Linked DNA regions of Homo sapiens: region 1 is linked to region 2. Evidence: fine-mapped expression QTL. A gene starts in region 2. The other region holds a variant in brackets. All regions are shown on one strand. Distances are from middle to middle.

Region 1 (4,391 bases), 21 kb before region 2:
TTATACTCCAATGATCTTGTTATTTTTAAAGTCTGCTAAAGCTGGTTCCACCTGCAGGTTTCTTTTGGTGTCCTAAATCTGTGTGTGCATTCTCCACATGCTTGGAGTCAGCGTACATGAGCTGTTTGTCCCCCAGCTGGCTTTTTGCAGTGGAAGAGGCGCAAACAGAATCCGCAGCACGTAGGACAGGGAGCCTGAAATCCCACGCCGCACAGCACTCAGTGTGTGCAGGAGCTGAGGGAAGCAATAAGACCTAATAACCTCATCCATTCTCCTAATTGCTTTCTTCTCCTCACAGAGGAGCCACATCAGCAGCTCTGGTGACCCTCAGGGAAATCTCTGCTTGTTATGAGGTTGGTGGGCCATCCTTTCATCACTGTGAAATGCTGGCAGTTTGTGTCAACAAATCGAATTTCAGTCAATCAATAGGCACCCCGCCTCTCAGCTTGGCAGAGCTGCACAGCTGGCCTTCCTTCCCTCCCATCTGCTGCCCATGCCCTGGAGCCCTGGCAGCAAGAACCACTGCTGCCCGTGGCGTGGGAGAATGCCCAGGCAGCCAGGTCAGACTGGATGTGGCAGACAGCAATTGACAAGGCTGGTTCCACCACCAGAGAGTCACAGCCCACTGGAAACACACCATGTTGTACAGGGTGGAAGCGCCAGCTTTGTGCAGATGGACTTGGGTACAGGTCTGATTCTGCCACTTTGGGCTGTATGGCCTTGAACTTCAAGGCAAGTTCTTCACCTCTTTGAACTCTACCTTCCTTAGTTATAAAGCGGGGATGCTACTGCTGCCTGCTGCAGGATTGTTAGGAAAAGTGTTATAATGCATGCAAAGTGCTTTGTCCAGTCCCTGGCACACAGTAGAGAGAGAGAGAGAGAGAGAGTGTGTGTGTGTGTATGTCACTGTGATCTGCCAAGTCTTACAAGCCAAATAGGGCAATAAATGGCAACTACTGCGGATTTTACAATCATCATTAGCATCATCATCATTATTATTGTCATGTTGAGTGTTGCACAGAAAACAGCCTAGAACCAGCCTACGTGGTTCTATCAATGCAGGATGAGAATATTCAGCCTCCAGTTCATGAAGGTTCACTAAGCAGAGATGTACACTGGATGATCACCAGCGTGTACAAAAAATAAATACTATAGTATCTTCATCAGAGGGCTGCCATTGGCCTCAGGAGGGCATTCCCAGGTAGAAGTGCCTCAGGAGGTTTGTTCTGTTGCCTGGCCCAACATCCTATAGGGAAGGAGCCCAATAGTGGCTCCTTGAAATTTCTGCATTCTCTGGAAGCCAGAAAAAGCAAAGACCTCCTGGCAATTGAGTTCTCTTGCTTGTAGGGGAGATCACAGCTTCGTAGATAGACGGCTGTTTCCCTTTGGGTGATAGAGGTCCCTGCTGGGCAACAAAGAATTAAACACAAATCTATTTCTTGCCAGTAGTTGTCACACCTAATAGATTGGGATGAGATACCACTGCATTAGTGTGTGAATTTCCCCAGATGAAGGCAGCAGCAAAGCCCTTTAGAACAAGCCACAGAAGGACAGAAACAAACTAATCAGGGAATGCACAGCTTCACACAAGATCCAGGGGCTTCTGACATGGGAGGAACACAAAAGTTTTAACTAACCAAGGATGCAAACATTCCCCCAGCAAGAAATGGTTAGAAGTATCTTGGAGTGCATTTTGTGGTCGCTGTTACTGCTGCTGCTGTTTTGTATAAT[A/T]GGGAAGGAAAAGAGAATAATTAGAGGTGAGATTTTCAGACACAGAATGCCCTAGTATTTATTGAGTTTCCACTCTGAGGCAGGCACTGTGAGAAGCCCTTCCACATTTATTATTTCATTGCATTTGTCATAATAACCCTGCATGGCAGGAATATTTACCCTTTTTGTCCAATGTGGATGCTGAGGCCCAGATAGAACCCAAAAAGCTCTGGGACCTGGCATAGACCAGGTGCTAGGTAACAAGAGATTGGCAGAGCCTTGCCCAGGGTCACAAATCAAGAGGAGAGATTCAAATGCAGATCCTAAAACTCCAGACCACCCCTCTTTTCTCTCTCCCTACCTGCTTGCTCAGTGCAGGAGACTGGGAGGGCCCTGAGCCAGGATGGGTTTAGACTCATGGAAGAAAATTCCATGGGGGAAAAATGTTTTTTCCATGAGAATCTGCTCTCATATAGCAGCCACACTTCTCCATACAGCCCAGAGACAGATCCTTCTAACATTCAAGCTAGTCTTAGGTCTTTGGGGGAGAGATTCAAAGATTCTGAATTAAAAAAAAAAATTAGACCCCCAGAACAGTAGAATACGATTCATGTCTGTTATGAATTACAGTTGGGTCTTTATCGTGCAGCAAGGGGTCCTCAATGGTGCCTACATCCTTTCTGAAATTGATCTTATTGGGATAACATGGCCAAAAAGGAAAACAAAAGCAAATAGTCATGCGTGTTTGGAAGATCTAGGACCGAGACATGCAAGTGTGATGGGAAGGTTCACTGCTCTTGGAAATTTAATTGCTGGATGGAAACAGACATAGAAATCTGGATTCCAACCAGACTTGAGCTCCATGCTAGCATATCAGACTGCCTGCTGGAATCCCTGTGTGGATGTCTCAAAGGCAGATAAAACTCAACATGCCTAAAAGCAAATGAATTGTTTCATGCTGCACCAGGCTCACCACCACAAAAGGGGAAATCAGCTGCATTCTCGACTTTAGTTGGTGACATCATCATCCCCCTAAGCCTCTCAAATGAGACACTTGGGATTTTCCCTCGGTTTTCCCTCTTCCTTATTCCTCCTGCCAATGTGCTGTTCAGTTCTCCTCTTCCCACCATCCACTGTCCCTTTGTATCTATCTTCTACCTATCTTTATACATCAACCCTTAACCGGACTCTCTGATTGCAATCTCACTCTCCTCTACCCATCACTGGTTTCAGAGAGATTTTTCTGAAATCCAAATTTGACCTTGGCACTCCTTGCTTACCACCTTCAATCACCCACCAGCATTGATGTGAAGGTTTTTTTTATGTGATTAACATTTAAATCAGTAAACTTTGAGTAAAGCAAATGACCCTTCATAATGTGGGTGGGCCTCATTCAATCAGTAAAAGGCTTTAAGAGAAAAGACTGAGGTCCCCTGAAGAAGTGGGAATTCTGCCTCCAAATTGCCTTCAGACTTGAGCTGCAACATCAGCTCTTCTGTGGGTCTGCAGATTTTGAACTTGCCAGCCCCACAATCACATGATCCACTTTCTTAACTCTCTCTCTCTCTGTGTATCTGTGTGTGTGTGTATGTGTATACATAGCATATACATAACATATACATACATAAACATATGTATTTCCTGTTGGTCCTGCTTCTTTGACTAGCCTTGACTAACAGAACCATCAGACCCAGGCTACTCCATCCTGTGGCTCCACAATCCATAATATGTTAACTCTGGGTCAGAGCTGGCTGCTTGGGCACCAGACATGGTAGCTCCATTCCAGACAGCTGGAGAGAGGAAGGGACCTAAAAAGACATATTCCCTTATTTTAGGGACACTTCCTGGAAGTAGAACATGACCATCCCATTGGCCAGAACTTAGTCACATCTAGTTGCAAGGGAATTGGGAACATAGTCATGATTCCAGAACCATGCGCCCAGCTAAAAATCAGGAGGTTTTATATCATGGTAGAAAGGGGGAACAGACATGGCGCTACAGCAGGAGACAGTATCTGCTACAAATACCAAACGAAGGGCGCTGGCAATGAGCATTTTAGAGGTTAAGGGGAGATTTAATGCGGGCAGGGTCCGGCAGAGAGGGGCTGCACAGTGCAAGGGGACCGGGGCTGACTTTGAAGGAAGGGCTACTCCGCCCAATTACGAGAACACGTGAGCACCCTTGCCCCAGAGTGAGCATCAACACCGTGATCACGGTTATCACGTGGGAGGTCTGCCCAGGATCCCGGCAGTGAGGCTGCCCTGGAGGCAGGCTTGCTCCGCCACAGGCGCGCAGGCAACAGCAGCGGAGCCGAGAATGGCGAGGCCAGCGGGCGACCAGGCCTCCGGCCAAGGGCACGCGACCCCCCGCGCTTCCCGAGTGCTCCCCTGAAGCCTGGTACGCGTGGGCACCGGCGCACGGCGGTGCCCCGGAAACGCAGCCATCGCCTCAGGGCAGCCACTCACCGATGCGGTAATGCCCCAACGGGGCGTTTCATTGGCCAGCTCTCTTTCAGGCTCCAACTATTTCTTAGATTTTTTTTAAGGAATTGCAAATAGGCCTAAACAAAATCCAGATGCGAGGGAAGGGATGCCTGAACACAGATGGGTGGGAGAACACGCCCCGAGGTGCTGCTTTGGCAGAGAAGCCCTGTCTGCGAGCCCCGAGGCGGAGATGGCTCC
Region 2 (4,391 bases):
TCTCCTTTTGACGATGGGATGTAGCCTATGGGAGGGATGTGTTTCCAGGTCCTCCCTGGCCTTGTGAGACATCCCCACAGAGGCCCCTGTCAGGGGAAGCTGTGATCAGGGGTCAGAGCCTGGCACACATGTCACTGTTGACTTGAAAAAGTTGATTGAGCAAGAGAAGGGGTCTCAGTCCTCCCCTAGGCTCCCCTGTGTCTCCGTGGGGTGCCCAGGCCCTGACCACCCCCAACCGAGGCAGGCTCTTCTCTTGCACTCTGTTACCTTGACAAGCTGTCATCTGACCTCCCTCCAAAAAAAATTCATGATAACCTTCTCCCAGGGCTAATAATAATTATTATTCTATTTTTAATAATTAATATGATAATGTAATTAATATATAATTATTACATATAATAATATAAGTAAATATTAATAACTATAATATAATTAATAATTATTATTATTAAAAACAGCTGTTTGAAAGCCTTTTGATGTGAGACAGACATCCCTAGCTGTGTTTCAGCAGTACTTGTCAATCTCTGTATGCGTAGGTACCATTATCACCACCACAGTCCCCAGTTCACAGAGGAGGAGCTGAGGCCCTCAGAGGCTCCATAATGTCCCCTAAAGCCACACAATCTTGGCCCAAGATTTGCTTGGCCCAGGGGCCTGGACGCTTGATCTCATAGATGGTCTGTCCATGTAGCTTGCAACACTCAAGAAGTCCCTCTCCAGTGAGGGAGCTCTGAACCCTGGCAGTGAGGCCTCTCAGTGAGGGGGCTTCTGAGCCCTGGCAGTGAGAAGCTCTCTGTGACCAGGGGACCCACCCTGCAACCTCCCCACCATTCCATAGCTGCCAGCACCTGTGCCCACTTCGAAGCTTAACCCTGAATGATAAGAGAGACCAGGAGCCAACAGCTTTACGTACGTTACTAATGAGCCTCAGAACAAACTCACAAAAAAATCTTATTCCTACTTCACAAACAAGAAGTTGAGGATCAGAGAGGTTAACTCAAATGACAAAGTCACACAGCTTTTAAGTCCCCTGCTCTTGGCACCAGACTCAGCAGCTTTGATGTGTTTGTTCTCTTCCTCCCTGTTTTTATTGAGGGCTTCTGAGGTGCCCTCCTTCTCCATCTCCTCCCTTCTCCTTCTTCTCCTCCTCCCCCTCCCCCCCGCCTCCTCCTCCTCTTCCTTCTTCTTCTCCTCTCCCTCTCCTCCTCCTTCTCCTTCTCCTCCTTCTCCTTCTCCTTTCTCTTTTTTAAATTTAAGAGATGGGGTCCCACTCTGTCACCCAAGCTGGAGTGCAATGGAATGATCACAGCTCACTGCAGCCTCAACCTCCCAGGCTCAAGCAGTCCTCCCACCTCAGCCTCCAGAGTAGCTGGGAATATAGGCACACCTCACTACACCTAGCTAATTTTTAAATTTTTTTGTAGAGACAGGGTCTTTCTGTGTTGCCCAAGCTGGTCTTGAACTCCTGGGTTCAAGTGATCTGCTCCCCCTCAGCCTCCCAAAGTGCTAGGATTACAGGACTGAGCCACCATGCCCGGCCAAGTCACCCTTCTTGAACTTTGATTCACCAAGCTCTTCAGTCCAATTTTACACAAGTGTGAACTCAGGTGTGTGCTTGTGATTCTTTGTTCACACACAGCCAAGTTGGCACAAGAAGGTGAAACAGAGAAAGGCCTCAGTGTTTTTGGCCAAGCCCACAGAAGGCCACCTAAGCAGGCTGGATGCTGCCCAGGGCTGGGCCACAGCGTGTCCTTTGTAAGTCAGCCATCCCAGCCCCCGAACCCCACACACACACAAAGACACACACTTACCCCAGGAGCAGCCCCACAGTGCAAAGGAGCCCACACAGCGGCTAATGGCTGCTCAGGTTTGTGTGATCTGTCTGGGTTCAGGCACAACCTCCAGGGGCCTCTGGCCCAGGTTGCATCTTTCCTGCAGAGCAGAAAAAGCACAGTTAAGAAAACCCCAAGAAGGCAGTCAGTTTCCTCCCTTGAGTTTCTGGGGTGGACTTCCGGCAGAGTTTTTGGAGGACTGACTGTTGCAGTTAAACAATGTGTCTGGCAAGAAGCGAGACTTCCTCCCTTCCTGCTGCCTGGCTCATGGGGCTGCAGCCTCCTTCTGGAGGTGGCAAGAAAGAACTGTGGAGTCCGCGATCTAAGGGATCCCTGGCAGCCCACGGCAGCCAGAGAACCACATCCGCTGGAGAACTCTAGGTTCTCTACGGCCTCTTGTTACTGCCAGTGCTTGTGTGGCTTGAGGTGGGTAATGCGGCAGCCTCCTGCAGCTAGCCCAGGACTGGGCAGCATGGGGCCAGGTAGTTAGTGTAGGAGAGTGAGCCCAAGCTTGGAAAGCAAGACTTGGCTCTGTCACTGGGCAACCGGGCAACCTTTTTTTGGTTTGGTTTTGTTTTGTTGTTTTTGAGACAGAGTCTTGCTCTATTGCCCAGGCTGGAGTGCAGTGGCATGCTCAAGTCCTGCCTCCCTGGTTCAAGCGATTCTCCTGCCTCAGCCTCCTGAGTAGCTGGGACTACGGGCATGTGCCACCACGCCTGGCTGATTTTTATATTTTTTATTGACGGGGTTTTGTCATGTTGGCCAGGCTGTCCTCAAACTCCTCCCCTCAAGTAATCTGCCCTCCTCGGCCTCCCAAGTGCTGGGATTACAGGCATGAGCCACTGCGCCCAGCCTGGGCAACCTTGAAGAAGTTACTTAGCTTCTCTGAGCCTCAGTTTCCTCATCTGTATAATGGAAGCAATAGTGTCCGTTTTGCAGGGCTAGTATGCCTGGTAAATGAGAATCCTCATAAGAGCCTAGAAATAATAGTGTCATAATGCAGGTGGTTCTACTATTACCAGTGACTAGTATTTGTTGAACACTGACCATAGACTAAGTTTTGTACTGAGCGTTTTATATTTATTGTCCCATTTAGTCCTCCAAAAAATCTAATGAGATATGACCATCCCCAGCTTACAAATAAGAAAACTGAAACTCAAAAAGACCAGCAAGTGACCCCAGAGAACTGCACAAGGATCTGCAGAGAGTGAGCAACAGGAGCCGAAGCCGTGGGCTCATACCAGGCTCTCTTCCTGCCTCTTAAGCCCATGGCACATTTGGAGGGTGCTACCTGAATTGAATGGGTGTGCCTGTTGTTTTGAAGTTGGGGTCTACGGCCATACCACCCTGAACGTGCCGGATCTCGTCTGAAGTTGAGGATAGGCATCATCTTTCACTTCAAAATGAAGAAACGGAGGCATTGGGAGGTTAAGTCACACATAGCCAGCAAGTGGCAGAGAGTGAAAGGAACCAGCATTGATGAGCGCCTACTGTATGCCAAACACTGTGCTTACTTCAAGATCCTGTGATCTGCTGGGTGGTTTTGGAGATGTTGGAGTTTCATTGACTTCCTACACTGCCCTGAAGAGGTCTTATTAGTATTAGCCCCATTTTACAGAGAAGGGAACTGAAGCTCCGTGCATGTAATTAGACTCCGAAGGCTGTTGATGGATGGGGAAGGAGAGGGTCCCTCTCTGCTTTTAAGGAATGCATGGACAGTTATGATTCTGGCCTGAGAAGGAAATGGAAGGGGCTCTGTGCCCGTCCCACATATCCTGCCCCACACCCAGGGCCTCATGGATCCCACCAGGGGAGGCTCCTGGCTTCCCAACAGAGGAAGGCATCACTTCAGAAAGGGCTGTCCCCTCAGGCCTTCTGTAGGTGGCCGGTGGGGTCTAAGTGTGTGTGCCCTTCACTCCCCGCTTCATTCCCCTCATCCTCCCTGTGCTCCTGTAATGCCCACTGGACCACTGGAGAGCCCCCGCAGACGGCAAACAGCAGCAGAGCACACAACCAGCCCTCTCAGGTCTAGTAAAAGTGAGCTTCCTACAGAAATGCACAGGGGACTGAGATGAGAGTCGAGCAGGCCTGGAAGGATCCCGGGGAACAAACAATGCTGCAGGGAAGATGGAGGCCCCCTCGGCAAGCCGTCCTTTCTGGCCCCCGAGGAGCCCTGGGGTGGACCCTGGTCACTGTCTTGAACATGTGACTCTAGTCTTTTTCCTCATTTTCAATATCAGTAAAATGAACTTAAGCATGTGTTCCACAATGCGAAGGTTTATTGATTTATAAATTCTATAAATGTGCTACTGAGCTAATAAATGCATCACAAATGACATAAAAGTTGATATTTTACTAGGATAATAGGAAATCACAACTAGAATTTCTGATATCTTCTTCCTACGCCCCCAGCATTTTGTGGTGTGCCCCCTCTGGGCCTTGGGAAAGTGATACAGAGCCTGCAGAGCCTGGTACTATGCTAGGGTCTGGCTGTAATGGGACACTGCCCTTTCCTGCAAGAGGCCATTGAGCAAGGCATTTGGCACAGGCTTTGGGGTC

Evidence for each region. PIP is the estimated chance that this variant, and not a neighbour inherited with it, causes the effect. A credible set is the group of variants that fine-mapping cannot tell apart.
Region 1: its variant is the best candidate, but not a certain one, in a credible set for the expression of LINC00539 in whole blood (TOPMed, PIP 0.59).

What each region holds. Positions count from the first base shown.
Region 1 is chr13:21,322,298-21,326,688 of GRCh38, forward strand. All of the region lies in intron 2 of LINC00539 (long intergenic non-protein coding RNA 539), which reads right to left. It also overlaps the pseudogene MIPEPP3. Among named protein-coding and RNA genes, the nearest start is that of LINC00539, 20 kb to the right of the region's middle. The variant A/T (reference allele first, on the strand shown) is at 1,732.
Region 2 is chr13:21,342,855-21,347,245 of GRCh38, forward strand. It overlaps LINC00539 (long intergenic non-protein coding RNA 539), which reads right to left and starts at 2,005. Exons shown (of 3, transcript NR_103841.1): 1 at 1,812-2,005. It also overlaps the pseudogene MIPEPP3. RefSeq lists a silencer at 3,743-3,946.